3 linked regions of the Homo sapiens genome follow. The protein of the gene in region 3 interacts with the protein of the main gene of each other region in a pairwise test. Each region holds a gene or a part of one and is shown on either strand. Other genes may lie near its edges.

Region 1 (7,020 bases), on a different chromosome or scaffold from region 3:
TGCCTCATCACTTTCCTGGGCTGGGAGGAAGGCTGACTCCAAAAATGAATGTCTCTGTCCCCAAGTCCGGCAGTGTCTGCCATGTAGCCAGTACTCACTGAATGCTGTCGACCTAAATGGATGGCCTGGGAGTCCCCACCCTCAGTCCATCACTAGTGTGTGATGCAGGAAGCTGCAGCAAGTACCATGAGGAGAATTCTCTTGGTGCCATGTAACTACTCTCAAGCCACTGGGATTTTCAGGTTTTTCACAGCAGGATAAAGCAGAAACAGATGGAGACAATCCCTTGAGCCCTCAAGGCAGAAAAGGGTACCGGAGTGAAGATGAAGGTATGCCGGGCCCTGCCTGATGGCTCAGGTCCCTCCCACAGGCAAACTGCAGCCCATTCTCACCGCCACCACAACACCAACTGTGGACGTCCTCACATATTGGAGCCATTAACCTTCCTTCCACTGTGGGCCCCTGGGAGAGGTGGTGGGCAGGTAAGCACTTGAAACTCGAACCTGCAGGTCAGTCCTCTCTCCGCCCCTTCTGCAGAAGCCTCGGAGCTGGGGCTGTGTGGGGACAGACACCACAGCCTTGGAGAGACAAGTCACATCCTCAGCTTCCCCTCAACCTGTGCAAGCACCGCGTTGCCATGGTGATGCTGCAGCCCTGAGATGCAATGGCTGCAGACAGCATGGGTGGTTCTAGGGCTCAATGCCGAGGTGGACGCTGTCTGGCCTGGGAGGCCAGGCGATTGGGTGGGCTGGGTGGGGGAGGAGAGGGAGCCCTCCTTTAGGTTCAGCTGGTAATTGCTGCTAAATGAAGGGCTGTCATTGAACCCAACATGTGCGAGGTAAGGGCCCCCGCTCTGCACCTTGTAATTACTGCACCAGACAGCAACGCTTGCTCCCTGTGCTGGGAGGCGGGCAGTGGGGGAGCAGACAGGAAGCTCTCATCCACCTGAGCCAGCGGGGCTCTGGCAGACTCCCCCTGCCGCCCAAGCAGCCTGCATCCCAAGCAGCCTCTAAGACGGAGGAGGCCCTGGCCCCCCTCCTTGGCTGGCTCTTCCCACATCATCCAGCTGGAGCACGAGCCTCCTTTAATCTTGGCCTCTGAGCTTGCGGAATCCAAGGGGGGCAGAGGTGCAGGAGCCAGATAAGAGGCCGCTTCCAAGCGCCCTTGGTGCTCCACCTCCGCCTGCTGAGTCTGTGCTGGGAATCTGAATTAGAGGCAGATCTCGGTCTGACTCCTGAGCACGGAGGCTCTGAGGGCCTCGGGCTAGTCACCGCCCCCTCCTGGCTTCAGTCTCCTGCTGCAGAAGTGGAAGTTGGACTCGAGAATTCTTGAGGGTTCTCCTGCTGGTAAACTTCAGCCAGCAAGCTGGATCCTACTTTTGTAAATGGGGTTTCACTGGGACAGCCACACCCTGGGTCTGTGTCATCTATGGCTGCTTTTGTGCTACGATGGCAGAGTAGCTGCAACAGACGCCATATGGTCCCCAAACCCCAAATATTTACTATCTGGCCCTTTACAGGAAGTTTGCAGACCCATTTTTAAAGTATTAAAGTTCTCCTGGGCTTAACCGAACGAGCTTTAGTGACTCCAACCTGATGGAAACAATTTTAGAACAAGCCCTATCCTTGTCCCCACCCATGGATACCCACTGTCCTCTTCCAAGCACCCCTTTTCTGCCGGTGTCTGGATAGCCGTGGCAGGGCAGCTGGGCTCTGGGAGCCAGTGTGGTGCAATGGCGCCACCTGCTGTGAGTGCCTAGGAGCACTTCGCCTGGAAAGCTTTGTCCCCAAGGGCCGGGGGGGTCTCCCATGGCCCGGGAACCAGTTTACAGGAGTAGACTCAGTCCACAGCACATCAGAGCTGGGGTCTTGCCCCCTCCCTTCCTCATTTGAGAGAGGCCTGCAGTCTAGAGAAGACGTGGGACTTGGCCAAGGAGGAGTGGAAAGCCCAAGCCCCAGGGGCCCATGAAGTTCCAGGAGGCTGTGTGGATGTCACGTGCAGCACGTGCACACACAGACGTACACAGACTTGGATGTGAACCTCAGCCCGGCCACTTAAGCAGCTCTTTATCTTTTCCAGGCTTTAGTCTCTTAGTTGTTAAAAGGATTAAAAGAAATGCTTATATAACATTTAATCTGTTACTAATAATGACTCAATCTTCAAAAGGACTCTGAGATAGACATTATCCCCATTTCACAGATTAAAAAACTACGGCACAGACAGGTTAGGTCATTTGCTTAGGGTCACACAGCTAGTGACAAAGCCAGTATTCAAACTAGGCTGTGAAAACATGTAAGGTCTCCAGAATGCAGTACTCAGTAAACATTCATTTATTTCCTGCCAGCAGGTGCAGTGGGGCCCCACTGGGGAGGGGACTGGTGTTCTAACAGGAGCGAGAAAATGAAGGAGGCCTGGCTTAAGACCAGACATTTGAAGAAGGCTCCAGGCAGGGAAAGGAAAGGAGAGGCCAGGCCCACACTGTCCCCTCCCTGCCCCCACGTCTCCAGCAACACAAGGCGGCCAGTGGACCGTGAACCATTTATTTCCAAACTATAAAGAAACCTGCTCTCTGAGAAAAGACACTGCCCAGGTGATGAAGCTCCAGCCCCTGGAGGTCCAAAACCCAGTCCAAACTCAGTCCCTTTAGAAAGCTGCTGTGCCTTGGAAATGAGTCTCGGCTGTCAGAGCCTGGGAAGTGGTGGGAAGAACCAGCCCACTCCCCTCTCCTGCTGCGATTCCAGCGCAGCTTGGGCCCAGCTCTGGCCAGTCCCAGGCTGGCCTGGTGCTCGCCCCTTGTGTGACCAGGCTCTGAAGGGAGGGGCAAAAGTCATGAGTCCCTGGCTTGGCCCCACCACCTGGTGACTCCCGTCCACAGCTCCCAGCTACCATGATGAGCCCTGGCGGCTTGAGCACAGTGAGTGCTGGCAGCAGGCTGGGGAGTGGCCTGCTTCTAAGCCATTTGCCCTGGCTGGTCACTGCTGCCCCTGGGCCACAAAGTACTCCTCCTCCTCATTGTCACCTTCCTCCCGCTGGCTGCTCCGGAGCAGCAGCTCCAGGTCGGGGCTGGAGCCCAGCCCCTTCAAGGCCTTGGGGCCACCATCACCTTGGGATAGAGAGAGACCACAGTTACAGGCCCAGTCGTGGTTTTCTTGGTTTGCTCTGATTTGCATGTGTGCTGAGTCACCCAGGCCCCACCCACCCACTCTGGAGATGACCCCCACATCTTCCTAGAGGAGTGACGGCAGCAGAGCCACCGGGCACACTTCCTGCATCAGAATCACTAAGAGTCACAGGGAGAAGAACAGAAAACAGAGGCTTCTGGAAGGGACTCTGGGTTACCTCTGGAATGCAGGGCTTTGAGGGCAACGTGGAGGGATATTCCCGAGAGGCAGAGGGCGAAGCCCAGCCAGTTCAGGAGGCTGATCTGATCGCCCAGCAGATGAGCTGCCAACAGCAAAGTGCAGACTTCCTGGGGGCAGAGAAGCAGGAGGGAGCATGATCAACAGGCAGATTTGGCTGCTTGACCAGGAGGGTGGAAGGTGGGGGCACTAGGTACACTCAGGTGGGCAGATCAAGATCTTACTGAAATCCTGGGCCCAGGCAGGCAGAGAGGTCAGGGGACCCGGCCGGCTTGCGGCGCTGTCCCGCCAGCCTCCTTTTGTGAGATGCAACAAAGGAGGTGCTTGTCATGGAATTCTGTCAGGAATAAAAGAGGCAAACCAGATCCCAGGCTGGGGACCAGGGTGTCCAGATCGCGCCTTATCCACAAGGATAAAGGACGGCTGCCCCAGAAGGCAGCCACAGAAGAGAGCCCTGAGCCTATGTGTGAGAATGCTGTGTTACCCCGGACTGAAGACACAACTGGTCCCGGGGCTCTCTATAAACAGAGACTCCAAACAGGACTGGCAAGGCCGTTCATCCAAGAACCACAGCCATGCCTCAGCATGCGGCTGGCCACCAGAAGACCCTTGGACAGGCCTGCATTTCTGGGTTTAGGCAACACTGCTTCAACACTGGTGTGTGCCTGGCCAAAGAGAAAAGTCCCTCCCTGCCCCTGAACAGGGAGGACTGTTGAAATGTGTGGGAGGGAGAAGGAGAAGTGAGAAGAGGTATGAGAGGGAAGGACAGGCCTGCGAGGCAGAGGTACAGCAAGGCTGGCCACAGGGGTGCTTTCTCAGGGTCTCACTAGCCCTGGCCATGGCCTTGGAGGACACCGCCAGTCAATCACGGAACTCTTTCCTGATGAGTCTGGATAGGGGCTGTTCAACCTGTGGCTCCAGGCCACTGCCCAGTGCCAGAGTTGGCAGTCAAGGTAAAATGTGAATGCATTCCAGGCCTAGCAGAGTCAGAGCTGGCTTTGAGGCCCCTGCTGTGCCCTTGGGGAGGGGCGGCTCTCCATCTGTGTCCCTGTCTGTGGGATGGGAGTGATCATACCCTCTCACAGGGCTGTGGTCAAGGCAGAAGGAGGGGCCAGCACAGCACTCAGCAAAGTGCCTGGCACCTAATGGGGCACTTCCTTCTCTTCTCTGCAGGGCCCTGGGGTGCAGGAGCTGGGACTGAAGCTGCTGGTGAGAAACCCCTGGGGGCTCCCTCTCTAAGACAGGACTGGCATCACGCCCGAGTCTGTACCTTAAAAATGCCGGCAATGGAGAGAGTGAGGCTGGAGGTTCTGGAGACCAGGAGGAACTCAGAGAAGCCCAAACCAAAGGCGAGAATCCCGCCAAGGAAGAGGCTCCCAAGTACCCGCAGGAGCAGCCCTGTGTCCTGGAAACGGAAGATTTTCTCAGATGTGGACAAATGGAGACCTGAAAGCAACAGGGAGAGAGAGTGGGAGGCCGGGTCCTGGGCTGCCTTGGCCAGCCCAATGCCAACCACACAAGATCTTCCACTGTAGTAGTGAGTTCTTACTGAGACCTGCTAACTGTCTGCAGCCCAGAGAAAAAGCATGGAAGGTATAAAGTGATCCCACACAGATGGCCTGAGACCTGGGGAAACCAGGGAAGCAGTGATGGCTGCCAGAGCGCCTGGGGGCAATACAAGCCAGATCCTAGCAGGATGATGCGGATCCTAGCGGGATGATGGGACCCTAGCGGGATGATGGGGATCCTAGCAGGATGATGGGATCCTAGCGGGATGATGGGGATCCTAGCGGGATGATGGGATCCTAGCGGGATGATGATGGGATCCTAGCGGGATGACGATGGGATCCTAGCGGGATGACGATGGGATCCTAGCGGGATGACGATGGGATCCTAGTGGAATGATGGGGATCCTAGTGGGATGATGATGGGATCCTAGCGGGATGAAGGAGATCCCAGTGGGATGAAGGAGATCCTAGCGGGATGATGGAGATCCTAGTGGGATGATGGGGATCCTAGCGGAATGATGGGGAGGGCTCGTCTGAGCCTCTGGGGTGAAGTAGAGGGGGGTGGCCCTGCATGGAAAGACGGATGGAAGTGCCCTGCACCTTTGGACAGTATTCCCTTACTGGTCTGTGGGGAGGGGCTCATGGCTGCTGACTTCATGGGGTCTTTGGAGCTGTGGTAACTACTGGGCTAAAGAAGGTAGGGCGGCTACCAAGTGACGAAGGACCAACAGTGCCCCAGCCCACTCAGGGAACTCCTTGGTCTACATTTCAGCCAGTTCACCTACAAACAGGGACAAAATTCTATCCCTACAAACGTTCATTTTAATCTAGGTCTTGCTAGTACAGAGCTGTGGGACTTGGGCTGAGATGTGTCCCCTTTCTGGACCTCAGTTTCCTTACTGATAAAATGAGAGGCCTGGGACCAGACTGGTATTTCTCCAACCCGTGGTATCACTTGATGAACATTTCCCAAAAAGAAAATGCAAACACATGGCCCCTTGCTCCAGAAACACAGGCATGCACACCCCCTACCCCAAATTCAGCTTAGACTTTCGGAGGAGTCATGGTCCCTCCAACACTGTCCATCTGGAAGAATGACTCCCGGCGTCCCTCCCACACGAAAGTCCTCGTGGTGTATTAGCACAGGGTGAAGGGGGGCCCAGAACTGGGCACAAGAGACAACTGTGGTAGCTGGAAGCTGGACGAGTATTTTGAGATTTTTGGAGGGAAGCACCAAAGAAATGCCGAGTGACAGTCCCCCCAGGCAAAACAGCCTCACAGTGTAGGACATCTTGTTTGGTGCTGGGCTCAGCAGAACTGCAAAGGCGTCGGCAAATTGAAGGGAATTCGGGGAAGAGCAGCATAAGTAATGAAGGCGCTTGGGGGATTAATTTACCAGAAAAGATTAAAGGAGCTAAATCCATGCAGCTTTGCCAAGTGACGACTACCAGGGGCTTTCAGATGAGGTTTTGCAGAGATGGGGCATGGTGTAAACACACGGGAGGGGAGGGAGAGTGTGGCGTTTGGTACAAGGGGGCATAATGAAGGAGTGGGGAGAGATTTTAAAGAAGGAAAAAAAACGAGGCCCTGAACAGAAGTTTCCTGGACAACGGGGCTTCAGAATAATTTTCTTGGGGAGGTTCAAGACGCTTCACTGCTTGAAACTTAAATGGATGTGGGACAGAATTTTCTGTAATGACCCTGAGGGCATTACAGACGGGACTCTGGGAGGAAGGATAAACAGAAAGGGGACAAAGGCTAATCCCAAAACATCAAAGAAAGGAAGGTGGCGTCACACCTCCCAGCCTACACAGTTCTCCAGGGCTCTCCTCATCCCTGGAGGACGACAGTGGAGGAACAACTGACCATGTCCCCAGGCTCCTGTGTGCTGGCTCCTGGTCTTCAGCCCCCAGCTCTGGAAGCCCACCCTCTGCTGATCCTGCGTGGCCCACACTCCTTGAACACACATCCCCAGGTTATATTCCTGGACATGGCTGAACCTCCTATTCCTACTTCCGAGATGCCTTGCTCCCTGCAGCCTGCCAAAATCCCACTCACCCTCCAAACCACGGCCTGGGAAGCCTTTCTGACTTGCCTGATTACTCCAGCATCTTGGAACAATCCCTGATTCCCCATTCCTTAGAGGCAAGATA
Region 2 (7,826 bases), on a different chromosome or scaffold from region 3:
CATAAATTGACAATTTACCTACTTGTCCCAGAAGGGAGAAGAGGTTATTTTTATTTCAAACCTTAGAAGACCTAAATAGAAGACATCCAGTCTTCCTCAAAATTTCCCTTTCAAAAAAGTAAGGTGGCGCAAATCTTCCTATGTGGAGATTATTTCAGAGCCCTGTAAGTAGTTGCTAATCAAGAGTGGCAAGAGCTAAAGGGAACAGGAACCCTAAGAGGGCTATGAAATTACAAGTGTCCTTTCTTGGTGGAAGGTCCAGCAATTAACTACACTATCCATGTTAAAAATCTGGAAGTTTAAAGCTGGGCATTTTGACTCAATCCTGTAATCCCAGCAGTATAGGAGGCCAAGGTGGGAGGACCGCTGGAGCCCAGGAGTTTGAGATCAGACTGGGGAACATGGTGAAACCCCATCTCTACACAAAATGCAAAAATTAGCTGGGTGTGGTGGTGGGCGCCTGTAATCCCAGCTACTCAGGAGGCTGAGGCCCAGGCTGCAGTAAGCCACAATGGCATCAGGGTACTCCAGCCTGGGCAACACAGTGAGACCCTGTCTCAAAAATATCTGATAGTTTGTCATTGGTTCCTTCCATTGCCTACCCTCTATGCTCAATCAATCTCATTCTAATCCTACACAACCATTTTTCAACTCTGTGTATTTCTCCCATCTTCTCAAGGCAAGCCATTATTCTATTTTTATCAGAAGTATTCATTATAGCCTCTGAATGTTCCCTGTGTCCATTTGTGGCTTTGGATATTCAATCCACCACTGATGTTGTAGCCAGAATGATCAAATACAAAAACAATTGAGTCACCATCCCCTTTAAAAGCCTTCTTTTATATTTCACCACCCTTAGCATAAAGTTAAAATTTTTAATGTTGATAACAAAAGCTCGGCTACTTCAGCACAAATCTATTGTAGTCTTACCTCGAATCTCTCTCCTTTTAATTTTTAAAGCTCCAAGTATATTTGACTTATTTAAGTTGTTCCAAAGACGTAATTTCATTCCTATATTGAGACATCTGCATATATTGAAACCATTTGCAGGAATGTTCCACCCCTCTTGTGACCACCTTGTAAGAACAAAAACAAACCCACCACATCATCTAATCTTCTCACACATGAACAGCATTTTATAGTCTCTATCTTCTCTCAGACACTATTCCCCCACTTCCCCACCATTGCCCACATGTGGATTAGTCAGCCTATGACGGTAAATAAGGGTTTAAGAAATGTGTTATGTTCCTTCTACATTGCAAAAGTCAAAGTTATTTGGAAAGTGACTAAAGATGATTCTTCTTAGTCCATCTAAATGTGTACTTTATTCTTCTTTAATGTAAAAGAACCTCTGCCTCAATCTCTCAGGCACACCTTCAGACTGAGAATTTAGGACATGTTGGGTCTGTCTTATCAAACGCACTGGTGGTTCTCTCTCTGTGTTTAGTGCCTCTCTGGTAAGACTGTAAGCTTCCTCGAGGGCAGAGCAATTATATCAAAATAAAGCTTGTAACTGACTCCTATGCTTTCCCATAATTCTTTGGTAACATAGGTCAGGTTCTGGTCATTCAAGGCTGGTGCTTTGTCATTCTAAGAAACTCTGGCCATAAATTCATATAACTGCCTCCTCTTTTTCCACCACAGAAATCCTTGTGTTAATTATCTACGGCACATGAAGTCCCCAAGAACAAAAACGTGTTTACCATCCAGGGCTTGACTTCTCTATATTCAATTTTTTTTTTAACTGCTGAGAATATTGGATGCATATGAGGGACATTTCTTCCAGGTTGGAGAAGAATTTAAACCTTGGTTTTGCCACATCACCTATATGCATCAGGCTCTTAAGAAATACAATGTCTTTCCCCCACACCCCTGATAAAGAGGTGGGGAAACCCAGACCACCCTTCCCTCTTCTATTGGCCCCAGTCACCTTGTGGATCAGCAGCACCACCAGTCTCTTATTTCCTCATTTTTATGTCACCATCCTCCTCATGGGTCACAATTGCAAGGAGAGAGCATGAGGAGAGTGGTACAAACAGCCATCCGTTTTTCTTGGCAAAGTTGTCAAATAGACTAGAAACCCAAAATGAGGCCTGAATCTGGATGGTTTTAGAAGGATGATGGGGATGCAGAAGTGGTGGCATGGGAAGGGAAAAGGGGGAAAGGCCCGGGCTAGGAACCAAGAATTCTGTTTTTGTTTTTGTTTTTGTTTTTCTCCCAGCCCTTTTGTTAACTTGTGTGATTCTGGGTACATTATTTCCCTTTTATTGGCTTCTTTTACTTCATCTGGGGAAAGATTACAATGGCCACGACCACTTACAAGCTTCTTTCTTATCCTAAGAATGCTAAAAGTCTACAAGGTGTTTTTCATTAGCAGATTTTATCATGAGCAGCCTCAGTTTACTGCCTGGGTGCCCCATGAATAGTGCCAAAGACCACTGGAGAACTAGGTCAGGCCACAGCCCATCTAAATGTACAAGGCTGGGGACCCTGCCTGTGCCCTACTCCATGTACACCAAATTCTGCATGTGATACATCTGTTCTTAAATCCTGAGTTATAAAAATAACCAGTCAGACACAGAGAATAAAGACCACAGAAGAAGGGCATTAACAGTAGATGAGGTAACTAGTCAAAGGTTTAAAATGTTGCTTTCAGTGTTTTGATATCCTGAAGACTCAGGGGACAAAAGTAACTAAACAACCTTATCCAGCCTCCAATGTCAGCCTTTAGGAGGCTTTTCTAACTCCTATCGACTGTAGCAAAAACTGTTCCTCATCCCCCCACCGAATGCACATTTAAAGGTGCACTCAACCCACCCCAACCCTGAATACCAGCTTGGGTCATGGGAAGTGGCCTCATTATTCTTCTCATTCCCCTCCCAGAAATTCTTAACCCAGGAAGTGAAACAAGCCATCAGCCCGAAAGCCTAGGAAGGCAAGTCCCTGGACCTACCTTTCTTCAGGCCTGCAATGTCTGCTGTAGGTCTGATGCATGCAGGGCTCTGGGCAAGTTCCTCAAAGTTCTTTGGTCTAGACCCAATCAACTTCCCCCACTCCACACCTCACTCAGTTTAAATCTGCATTCCTCTTCTAGCAGATGTTTGGAACCTTAAAGGCTGTGCTGAGAATTTCTGAGACGCACAGCTAGTTCCTCTTTTATATCGGAAGCATTAACTGATTTTGTGTTCCCAATATGGGTGTGGATGTCTATTTTGAAATTTGCTGAAAAAGCAGGGGCTGCCTGATACAGTCTTTCCTATGAAAATAATACTGCTAATTACTGTGGATATCAGTGGTAGAGGATTTACTGTATGCCAGACTCTCTTCAAAAGTCGTTATATAAACAAGTAAATGGTATTTTGTAAATACCCCCTTTCACAGGGTCACACATTTCCACAGTACTCTTGTCTTCCTGGAGCACTACTATTACTATTTTATTAGGTTGGTGCAAAAGTAATTGCAGTTTTTGCCATTATTTTATGGCCAAAATCACAATTAACTTTTGCACCAACCTTAATATACACAACTTAAATGTTTTATTTACATGAAATTCCACCTTTAGAGATTCATCAGGAGTGGCCATAAAATGGCAACAAGTTGGTTGTATGGCAATAAAACAACACCTTTCTAAGTGAAGGAAGCAGCTGGTATCATAGAACGAGCTGGTCTTTGACTAAGATCAAACCAATGGCAAACATTTCTTGCATGGCCCTGTTAATCTCCTGAACCTAAGATTCATTTGTAAAATAAAATAATGCCTACTTTACATGGAGGAGGAAAGCAAAGTGGTGTGCAGTTTTCATTCATTCAGCATTTTCTTTAGAAAAACTACTATAAGCCAAGCAGTGTGCCGTGTGCTTCTGAAAAAATGGTAAAAAATAATTTTCACTCAAAGAGTTTATAGACTACTTGGAAAAACAGACCAGTAAATAAATCACTACAATCCATTACTATCAGTTATCTGCAAGGTAAAGTGGCAATACAGATGAGTAAATACATCATTACAACCCATTGTAATCAGTGATCTGCAAGGTAAAGTAGGATATCCTAAGAGAGCTCATAGGAGGATCAATGAACCCAACATTGGGTAGGCAGAGGAGACTTCCTAGATAAGGGGACATCTAATTGGAGACCTGATGAATGAGCAAAAGACACACAAATGGAAAGGGAATGAAGGAAGGTAATATTATTATTTCTATTTTTCAGAAGAAGAAACTGAAACTCAGAGATATTCGTATAGCTGGTATAGATGAGATTGAAATCCAGTTTTACTTAATTCCAAAAACTATGTGGTCTATAATCTGAAATTACGATTCTCAAAATTAAAATAGATTATATTTCAGAAATATTGTCCTGGTTTCAGACAACAGGAATAAATAATAATAAAATCAGAGAATTAGGCTCAAGGTAGAGGCAGTTCTCTAGGGAAGGGATGATGGTTACTGAACTACCTGTGATGCTAGTGAAGTTGGAGAGAATGAATGGATTTGAAAGATGCTTAGGAACAAGAAATGACAGTACTTGTTGGTATAATGGATGTGTAAATCAGGAGAAAAAACAGGAAAGGATGACACTCAGATTCTGGGTTAGGAAACTGAATGAGTGATAGAGCCATTCAGTAAGGCAATAGACATGGACCAGGACAGAACTGCAGGAACAAATAGTAAAATTTTGAACGTATTTGATCAGAGTTGTGTAGGGACCTTCAAATAAAGTTGACAAGAAGTGGATAACTGGCAGGAGCTAGGGAATGAGAACATGGCTATAGAGGTAAACCCAACAGCTCTTCGCCCAGAGGGATGAGGTCACCCAGGCTTGTGGGTGGAGGCAGAAAACGTCAAACCCTTTTTCTAGAGGATAGAGACAGTATAATCAGAAATAAGATTTCCCAGAGGATTATGAAAAAGAGGGTAAGGAAGATAGCAGGCAAACTCGGAAAATGTGGCATTGCAGAAGACAAGGGTACAGAGTTTCATGACTTCCTAAGAGAGGTTGAAATTCTGGACTAAGGACAGGCATCAGTCTCTCCTCCCACTCCATATGGTATGAAATGAGACAGTATCAGGTTATTATTAGCAGATAACAATTTCAAGAGAACAATAACATGAAATTTGACAGAGAAATATATATATTCTATATATATAGAATATATATCCTATTATATATAATAGAATATCTATATATTATATATAATTATATATCATATACAGATATATTATATATAATAGATATAATATATAATATATATTATATAATAGAATATATATTATATTATAATAGAATATATTATATATATAATAGAATGTATCTCTATATAATATGTTATATTATATATTAACAGAGACTGGGTTTCACCATTTTGGCCAGGCTGTTCTCGAACTCCAGATCTCAAGTAATATACCCTCCTCAGCCTCCCAAAGTGCTGGGATTACAGGCGTGAGCCACTGCACCCGGCCTTGAGCTGGATTTTGAATCCTATGCCCTATGTGAGCTGGAGCAAGTTGCTTAGGCTTTCTGCACCTCAGTTTACTCATCTGTAAAATATAGATAGTAATATGTCATAGCGTTGTTGAAAGGGTTATATTAGGTAATATAAATAAATTACTTATCATTTTTTGAGCACAGAAATATTTCAGTAGGAAGAAATCATTCAATTATTATTAAATACTTCAGAGAGACAAGCTAACAACAGTAAAATGTTCACTGGATTTAGCCTGAAAGAAATCATTAGTGCCCCCTTCCCCAGTTCCCAATCAATTTTCTTTCTCCAGAAGCAAGTATTTAAATTTTAATTGTTTCTTTTTGTGTTGACTCCATATTTCTAAGTGAATGATTTTAAATACTGTTCTAATTTTTGGTTTTATATATTATGCACTAACCTCCTACTACTGAAGACAATAGACTAACCCCTATATCCTTCATTTTTACCCTGGACACACCTTCCCACCATAACACTTCCTTTTCCCTCATTCTCCCATATAGTTTTATCACGATTTTTTAGTTAACTCAATTTATAGTATTTAAATCATTAATGGCTAATTCATTATGAGTGTTATGATTACGCTTCCTTTTGACCATTTTTCTCTCTGAAGTTAGTAACTGCCTCATGTTTCATATGCTGTTTTCTACATACCTGAAAATAAGTTGTTTTAAATACTCCACCATAAATGTAAATCTCAGTGTCTATAGACCCACAGGTAATTGATCTGTTTCATTAGTATTTTTCTGTATACACTCTCCCTTCCTGGCGCCTTATATTCTCCTATTCCAGTTAGGACTGGTTATACTCTAGGCCTTCAGGGATCTTAATTCACTATTCTCAGGGAATTCACTTACTTAAGTATTCACTATTGATATGGTTTGGCAGTGTCCCCACCAAATTTCATCTTGAATTGTAGCTACCATCATTCCCACATGTTGTGGGAGGGAACCACTGGGAGATAATTGAATCATGGGGGCGTGTTCCCCCATACTTTTCTCGTGGTAATGAATAAGTCTCACCAGATCTGATGATTTTATAAGTGGTTTTCCCTTTTGCTTGGCTCTCAATCTCTCTTGTCTGCCGCCATGTAAGATGTGCATTTTGCCTTCCACCATGATTCTGAGGCCTCCCCAACCATGTGGAACTGTGAGTCCATTAAACCTCTTTTTCTTTGTAAATTACCCAGTCTTGGTTATGTCTTTTTTAGCAATGTGAGAACATACTAATACAACTACCTTCTCAGACAATTAGCTGTGTCCCCAGACATATTCAACTGAAAGCACTTATAATTCTTGAGACTTACTGGGGTTCTACAAAGAGAATCAAATTTTTTCTAAGCTTCCAATTCCGTCAGTCAGGTTTTCACTTTCCGGAGGCTGCTAAGTCATTTATTGCTTGTCTAGCTGGTTTCTAACATTTAAAAAAATGATCCAATTTCTCTCATATTATTTTTGAATTTTTGGATTTATGACTTTCTCCCAGACCCTTTATAGTCATTTAGTTGGGTTTCATGAGGAAATAGATGTGTTTAATCCACCAAGATTAGCCATTATTTGAAAATTATATTTTTATAAGTGTTTTTCTTACCAGTTCATTGTATCTCTGAGGACAGATAATGTATCTTATTTATCTTTTTGATTTCAACATTTCTCAATGTCTGACACCAGGTAGGAACATTTCTGTTGAATGCTATTGGGTGGGTAAAATAGAAACAATGCAGAGAATGGATGTAGGTGGCACATCAGTCAGCAGTGAACTGAGATACAGTATCAGAGAAAATTATATTACAATCTCAGCTAAAGAGATTGGTAAAAGCCTTAGAGATATCTGGAATAAAAGATTAGAACAGAGGGAAAATGTGAAAACAAATATATTAGGAAGTAGGAGTCATGTAAAGTTGAGGTGATAGATCTAAGCACTGTAATTCCTCATTTTGAATCTAGAAAAAATATTATTTTGTATCCTTTTAATAAAAATATTTTTCCAGTGCCTATATAATTCTAAATTAAAAGCACAAAATGTTTTTTTTTCCCATATGGGTTTCCTTTGTGCTTAAGAAATGGTTCTTCAAATAGTACATATGTAGCAAAGAAAGGTATTATTCTTAAGAAAACACTCTTAAAATTCTTAACACTTAACCTCAGATACTGGTGCCTATGTATATTAATATGCAAAATAAATGCCAGTGTCCCCTAAGGACAGGGTCTGTTTAATGACAATAGCCCAACTCGTCTATGCTGACACCAAAGTAGTGTATACAAATCACATTCTTCTCTTCTTTATCATTACAAGATCTCTTAGCTCTGACCAATTTACTGCTCTGCAACCATTTTTGCCAACTAAT
Region 3 (7,610 bases):
CCCTGTGCACCCCGCCCTGTGGGAAAACTGCCCTGTGGCCTGGTATGATGATGATTTACTCAAATTGCTCAATACCCTGGGAGTTCCTTTGCTTTAAAGAGTGCAGATTTTTTTAAAGCTAGAATTATATTTCTTGTTTTTTCTTTATTGTGCTTTCACTCAGTTTGTTTTCCTATAAAAATTAATCATACCCGTAGTGTTGATGTTTCCAGACACATTGAAAGGTCTAAAAACAATTGCTCACTAAACAAACCAATTTGCAAAGCAGAAGAAAAAGAAGTGAGACTCGCCCAGTAAGCATGAGATCATTTTTTCAAGTTCATTACCTCTTTTCCTCACCCAAGTTTGTTGTACCAGAGAACACACAAACCACACCTCAAACTTTAGTTCATGCTAGAGAAATTTGAATTAACAAAGGAGAAAAAAAGAAAAGGAAAAATAGGAGAGGAAGAAACAAAGAAACACAATATGCGATTGCCTTAGCCCTCACCCTGAAACTCAGCACAAGAACAGACACTTCCTTGGCTCAGAGTAAAGATGGGTGTGGAGATTGTAGGTCACAACAATTGCTGGTCTGCTTCAACTTAAGGTAGGATAAGTCCCTGGAAATAACAAAAAGAGGAGGTTTCTCCCAGGGCTGTCACCCATGGCTCACAGTGCCCATAAGTTTTTCTTGCTTTAAAGCTCTAAACCTGTGTTGACTAATACAGTAGTTAGTAGTTGCATGCAGTTATTTAAAGTCAAAAGAATTCAATTAAATAAAAGTAAAAATCAGTTCCTCAGTTGCTCCAACCACATCTCAAGCACTCCCTAGATACATGTGGTTAGTGTCTATTATCTAGAACATTTCCCTCATCACAGAAAGTTTTACTGGACAGCACTGCTCTTGATTCCTGGTGCTCCCAGTATGATGGGAGTCATCCACCCATTGGAAATCAGGGACTAGCTGTAAGCAATGGCTCAGGAGCACTCAGTTGCACGAGGGCCTCAGGTGTGGGCATTGCCAGAGAGATGCCCAGCTCCAGGGCAGGAGTACTATGGAGAGTCCTTGGGGCGGGGGGGAGGGGGTGGGCAGGCGGGTAGGGCGGTGTGTGATGATGGTGCCCCCTCACCAATGTGGTCTCTGTCCCAGTTGGTGAATGGTGGCCCATCAAGTTTGTGGGCAGCCTGCATGGCTATCAGGCACAAATTCCAGAGCATATTTAAAGGCTGGCTGGTGTTTACTCTGGTTAAGATTGTAAGCAGGAGAAGTCAAAAAGAAGTTCTGAGTTTTGGCCGGGTGCGGTGGCTCAAGCCTGTAATCTCAGCACTTTGGGAGGCTGAGGTGGATGGATCACGAGGTCAGGAGATTGAGACCATCTTGGCTAACACGGTGAAACCCCGTCTCTACTAAAAATACAAAAAATTGGCCGGGCGTGGTGGCAGACACCTGTAGTCCCAGCTACTCGGGAGGCTGAGGCAGGAGAATGGCATCTACCCGGGAGGCAGAGCTTGCAGTGAGCAGAGATCACGCCACTGCACTCCAGCCTGGGCCTCAGAGTGACTCCGTCTCAAAAAAAAAAAAAAAAAAAAAAAAAAAAAAAAAAAGAAAATAAAAGAAAAAAAAAGTTCTGAGTTTCTTTTTTTTCCCCTTGATTAAATGATGTCTAAGGTCCCCTTTGGATGTAAAAGTCTATGATTCTTCCCAGCAGTTAAAAAAAAAAAAAATAGGTGAGTTGATTTTAAAGACTATTTTATAGCAGAAAGCAAAACAATCTGTTGGAGCAGAAAGCAAAGTAAGAAATTTTTCTCCTCACTGAGAAGGTTAATAAAAAGAAAATCCACTTCTTCATAGGGTCTGAAAACTATGTAACCTAAATTTTGTTTATACTCAAAGTATGTATATCTATAAAACCTAATGAGTTCTTTCCTGTTGTGCTTAGCAACTCAGGCAAGAAATGTTCAAGAAACGTTGTCTTTCATTAAAAGAAGACATTCAAGTTAACAAAACTTCTTTAAAAATTTATTTTTATTTTTTTTAGAGACAGGATCTCACTATGTTGCCCAGCCTGGACTAGAACTCCTGATCACGTGGCCTCAGCTTCCCGAATAGCTGGAACTGCAGGCATGTGCCACTGTGACTGGCTACGAATTCTTAAATGGCTTAAAAATCTTTAAAACTAGTTAGAAGTGGAGTTTTAGGTTTATAAACAAATGCAAACATAAAATAATACTAGCATTATTTGAAACTTAAATTTGTATTTTGTGTGAAAATGTGATCAGAATGAAAAATATCTTTATGTCCTGCAGATCATGGTGGAGCAAAGAATTGGTAAGGAGTAAAAACAAATTATGTAAAAATAACATTGCGTAGATAAAGCTACTTTGTTGACTTACTTCAACTGACACATTTATTAAGCAGAAGTGTTTGCAGAGAATAACTGGGAGTAAATTGCTTCACACATTTCATTACAGGTTGGCAGGACCAAATGATTTCTGACAAGAAGACCAAGAAACTTTCTCTCTGCTAGCCTGAACAGATTATTAAGAAATAACACGAGCTATTTCGTTAAACTTTCTATTGCTTTTCTGACTCCACAAGGAAATTGGGGGTCTACAAAGGTGACTGTCTATGTGCGATTTAATCAGGAGATATAGGGTTTCTCGGGGTGCTTGGATTTTCTTGTTCTTTCTGTGGGGATATCTGAGGTTGAAAGCAGGATGGCTGCGTAATATCTCCAGAAGTTTAATGAGAACAAGACTTATATCAAGGGTATTAAGAAAGCAATTCCAACGGTTCAAAGTAAAAGAGAACAGGACAGTCACAATACCCTAAATTACAAAGAAAAAAATGACAGACTTTATGAATCAAGAATCTAACTTCTTCCCCTTTCCCTCCCAGTCTGCTAGCTTCCCTCCCAGGAGAGCAACCCAGCCCTTGAGCCCGGGAGATTCCCTGCAGAGGGAAAGCGGTCTACTCACAGCGCCTCCTCTTTCTGCGCACACGGTAGGGCCCGCTCCGCAGTCTGCACCCGACCCAGGTGCTTTTCTACCCTCCTGCAATTCTTTGAACCTCCAGGACCAGGGAAGGGTAGTCTGTGATTGGCAGGAGGCACCTCACATGGGCTGAGCTTTCCGCTGCCTGCCCTGCCTCGCTGAGGCGGGGGAGTAACCGGAGGCTGTCAGTTGATTTCTGCTGCTTTGGAATGTGTGACTCTGACAGATGGAAGCACCTTGACAGCCACACTCATCGCTTTCCTGGATCCCTCCTAGGTTTGGGCTTTACTGGAATACAAACTCAGGGATTTTATTTTGATTTGATTTGATTTGATTTGTGTAATTTGATCCTTACTCCTGCTTTTGTGTGTTGAAGGCTTGTTAGTCCTGACCGCTCACAGCGATGCTGATATGTGCTTACCTGTGTAGGGCCATGTCCAGTTTTAGTTTCTATAATTTGCATATGCCAAATTCAGAGAGACAGTAATTGCCCAAGTAATGCTCATACTGTAGGTGGCCCAAAGACTGATAAGGAGCAAGAGATGTGGAAAGAAACAGATTGGGAAAAATTCACGGAGAGAGAGGGCTCAAGTGATTATCTGATGTCCAATTCTTCCCTCCCCTCTTCTTCCCTCCCTTTCTCTTCTCTTCCCTTCCCTTCTTTTTTCCTTCTTCCCTGACTTCTGGAGCCATCATGTGTTATACATGGCACCCAGAACATTATTTTAATGGCTGCATAACCTATCATGGTATACATGCGCCATCGCTTGTTTAACCTGAGTTAGGAATCGGTAACTGCAGTAATGTTAGAATTTACTGAGTGCTTTTACCAATAGACTTGGGAGTTCCTCAAAGGTCAGCATCATCTCTGTTGCAGGTTAGGTTGTTCAGGAGCAGACTTTGAGACAAAATTTAGTGTGCAATATATTTATTAGACAGTGCCCTGAGATTAACACCCATGGCAGGGAGAGGGGAGAAACAGGACTGGGCAGAGGAAGAAGTTGAGCTGCAATATAGATGGGACAGTCTTAAGCAGCCCTCCTCAGGAAACTCTGGAGGAAGATGGCCTGTCAGAGTAGCTCTGACACTGGGCTCCTCTATGATCTGCCCTTCAATGTGGATTACCCTGGGAAGGCAGCTTTCTGTAGCTGAGGCAAGTCCTGAAAGGGGCTGATAACTGGAGGCTGGAGGTTGCAAGTACTCCCAGCAGCAGGGCAACCTCCCACTTCAAGGGGGACTGCATGGAGCACCTCTGTGTCCATCACAAGGCCTTATTCCTCTGCAGCTCTTCAGGGCCTTGTTAGATAAATTATCATATTTCACACAATAGAATTCTGTGCAATGGTTAAAAATGACACCACAGATAAACATTTAATGGTATGGAAATAAGTTCAGTCATTTATTTGACAAATATTTATTGAAAACTTAGGATGTGCCAGGCACTCTTCTAGAGGCTGAAAATGAAAAAGCGGTTTACAAAATAGTTTGTGTAATCTGACACATTTTAATTTTTAAGAAAGTTTACCTATGACTTAAAAAGTTAGAAATAGTATACAGCAAACATTAACCAGAATATATCTGAATGGTAAAATATGGGTGACTTTTACAGTCTTCTATTTTTGCAGTTCATATGTTTACAAAGGATCTATATTATAATTATAAGAACGTACAAGTTATTAAAAACATGTGCTGTCCTGGAAATATTTGTGATAAAGTAGCAAGGAAGCAAACAAGGACATGTGAATTTTCATTCATGTCTTAGGCATTTTATGTTCCATTACCATGATTATATGGGGAGAAAACAAAAAGATTTGAAAATCTTCAAAATAGATAATGTGAACACAAACCCAATAACAAGAGACAAGAGACTAGCTAGGAAAAGGAAGATTAGTTTTCAGATAATAACTGCAACTGAATAGTTGAGGAACGTCAAGTCGTTAATGTATGACAGGCTTATTTTTTTCCAGTTAATTTATTTCTAACTCTCTTCTGCTAATCTTCCTTTCTCTCTGGCTAGGTGGCTCCCTTACCCACATCTTAACCTGATTCCAAGCTCATCAGTGAATTCTCATTACTAATATCTCACTTCTGTTAGAAACACTTAGATATTTTCTTCCTATCACCACAATTCAAACTACAGACTCCAGTAGTTTTGGGGAGAAGTTGAGGTCTTTAATAACCCCCCAACTCCCTGTGTATGTTCATTTGAGAGGGAAATGATGTCGTCCTGTGTGAGTGGCCAGAGAGAGGCTCTATCCCTTTCTGTTGGCCATCCCCACTGTCTAGTTCACCACCACCAGCAGCAGTGTAGACAAGGGCAGTGCACAGGGCTGGCCGAGGAGAGCCCTACTGAACCCCACGAGTTCCTAAGCCTCAGAGGGTGCTCTGCCTCATTCATTGGTTTGCAGTCAGTCTTTGTCCTTCAATCTCACCTACCCTCCAGGACCCCAGTTCTCAGGTGGCTGGGTTCTACCTTCTGCACATCTCAGGAACCTAGAACTAAAGGTGGCATGCTTGTCCCCTTCTCTGTCGGGCCATACCACTGCACCATCACCCTCCAAAGCTTTTCCTTCTCTGTGGTAGTTCCAAGGCAAGTTAGCAGGCCTGGTGACTCATGTGATATTTAACTGGGCTAGAAGAATTGGTCCTACATACACACTCAAACTTTTCAGTCCTCATGAGGTTTTCCTCTGTCATCTTCGGGGCAAGGAACCACTGGAATGTTTGTCTTCTCTGCATTCCCTAACAGATCCCTCACTTCAAATTGACTTTCCTATGGCGAGGTAGGGAGTTATAGTGCAAACTGGGTGAGAAAGAGGCTGCCTCCCTACTGGAAGTTCGGAAAGTGGGTTATTTAATGCCTTTTGCTTTCTCTAGTTACCAATTTCAGCAAAAACACTTCTCAAAACATGATGTTGTCTACAATATTTTTAATATATAGTAAAAGTCCCAGGTACTGCCAAATTTACTCTTCACAATATCCCTTTTTTTTATTATTATACTTTAAGTTTTAGGGTGCATGTGTACAACATGCAGGTTTGTTACATATGTATACATGTGCCATGTTGGTGTACTGCACCCATTAACTCGTCATTTAGCATTAGGTATATCTTCTAATGCTATCCCTCCCCCGTCCCCCCACCCCACAACAGTCCCTGGTGTGTGATGTTCCCCTTCCTGTGTCCATGAGTTCTCATTGTTCAATTCCCATCTATGAGTGAGAACATGCAGTGTTTGGTTTTTTGTCCTTGAGATAGTTTGCTGAGAATGATGGTTTCCAGCTTCATCCATTTCCCTGCAAAGGATATGAACTCATCATTTTTTCTGGCTGCATAGTATTCCACGGTGTATATGTGCCACATTTTCTTAATCCAGTCTATCGTTGGACATTTAGGTTGGTTCCAAGTCTTTATTATTGTGAATAGTGCCGCAATAAACATACGTGTGCATGTGTCTTTATAGCAGCATGATTTATAATCCTTTGGGTATATACCCAGTAATGGGATGGCTGGGTCAAATGGTATTTCTAGTTGTAGATCCCTGAGGAATCGCCACACTGACTTCCACAATGGTTGAACTAGTTTACAGTCCCACCAACAGTGTAAAAGTGTTCTTATTTCTCCACATCCTCTCCAGCACCTGTTGTTTCCTGACTTTTTAATGATTGCCATTCTAACTGGTGTGAGATGGTATCTCCTTGTGGTTTTGATTTGCATTTCTCTGATGGCCAGTGATGATGAGCATTTTTTCATGTGTTTTTTGGCTGCATAAATGTCTTCTTTTGGGAAGTGTCTGTTCATATCCTTCACCCACTTTTTGATGGGGTTGTTTGTTTTTTCCTTGTAAATTTGTTTGAGTTCATTGTAGATTCTGGATATTAGCCCTTTGTCAGATGAGTAGGTTGCAAAAATTGTCTCCCATTCTGTAGGTTGCCTGTTCACTCTGATGGTGGTTTCTTTTGCTGTGCAGAAGCTCTTGAATTTAATTAGATCCCATTTGTCAATTTTGGCTTTTGTTGCCATTGCTTTTGGTGTTTTAGACATGAAGTCCTTGCCCATGCCTATGTCCTGAATGGTATTGCCTAGGTTTTCTTCTAGGGTTTTTATGGTTTTAGGTCTAACATTTATGTCTTTAATCCATCTTGAATTAATTTTTCTGTAAGGTGTAAGGAAGGGATCCAGTTTCAGCTTTCTACATATGGCTAGCCAGTTTTCCCAGCACCGTTTATTAAATAGGGAATCCTTTCCCCATTGCTTGTTTTTCTCAGGTTTGTCAAAGATCAGATAGTTGTAGATATGCGGCGTTATTTCTGAGGGCTCTGTTCTGTTCCATTGATCTATATCTCTGTTTTGGTACCAGTACCATGCTGTTTTGGTTACTGTAGCCTTGTAGTATAGTTTGAAGTCAGATAGCGTGATGCCTCCAGCTTTGTCCTTTTGGCTTAGGATTGACTTGGCAATGCGGGCTCTTTTTTGGTTCCATATGAACTTTAAAGTAGTTTTTTCCAATTCTGTGAAGAAAGTCATTGGTAGCTTGATGGGGATGGCATTGAATCTATAAATTACCTTGGGCAGTATGGCCATTTTCATGATATTGATTCTTCCTACCCATGATCATGGAATGTTCTTCCAGTT

What was found.
Region 1: the proteins of UPK1B (region 3) and SLC35H1 interact in binary tests that used the Homo sapiens proteins (3 or more experiments, as listed by UniProt).
Region 2: the proteins of UPK1B (region 3) and MS4A4A interact in binary tests that used the Homo sapiens proteins (3 or more experiments, as listed by UniProt).

What each region holds. Positions count from the first base shown.
Region 1 is NC_000020.11:46,347,422-46,354,441, forward strand, and holds part of SLC35H1 (solute carrier family 35 member C2), read right to left. Parts: intron 4,806-7,020; coding exon 4,630-4,805; intron 3,470-4,629; coding exon 3,340-3,469; intron 3,104-3,339; coding exon 2,973-3,103; 3' UTR 1-2,972.
Region 2 is NC_000011.10:60,275,844-60,283,669, reverse strand, and holds the start of MS4A4A (membrane-spanning 4-domains subfamily A member 4A), read right to left. Parts: upstream 3,005-7,826; 5' UTR 2,995-3,004; coding exon 2,954-2,994; intron 1,077-2,953; exon of another isoform or gene 931-1,076; intron 1-930.
Region 3 is NC_000003.12:119,168,990-119,176,599, reverse strand, and holds the start of UPK1B (uroplakin-1b), read right to left. Parts: upstream 3,003-7,610; 5' UTR 2,962-3,002; intron 1-2,961. UniProt on the Homo sapiens protein: Component of the asymmetric unit membrane (AUM); a highly specialized biomembrane elaborated by terminally differentiated urothelial cells.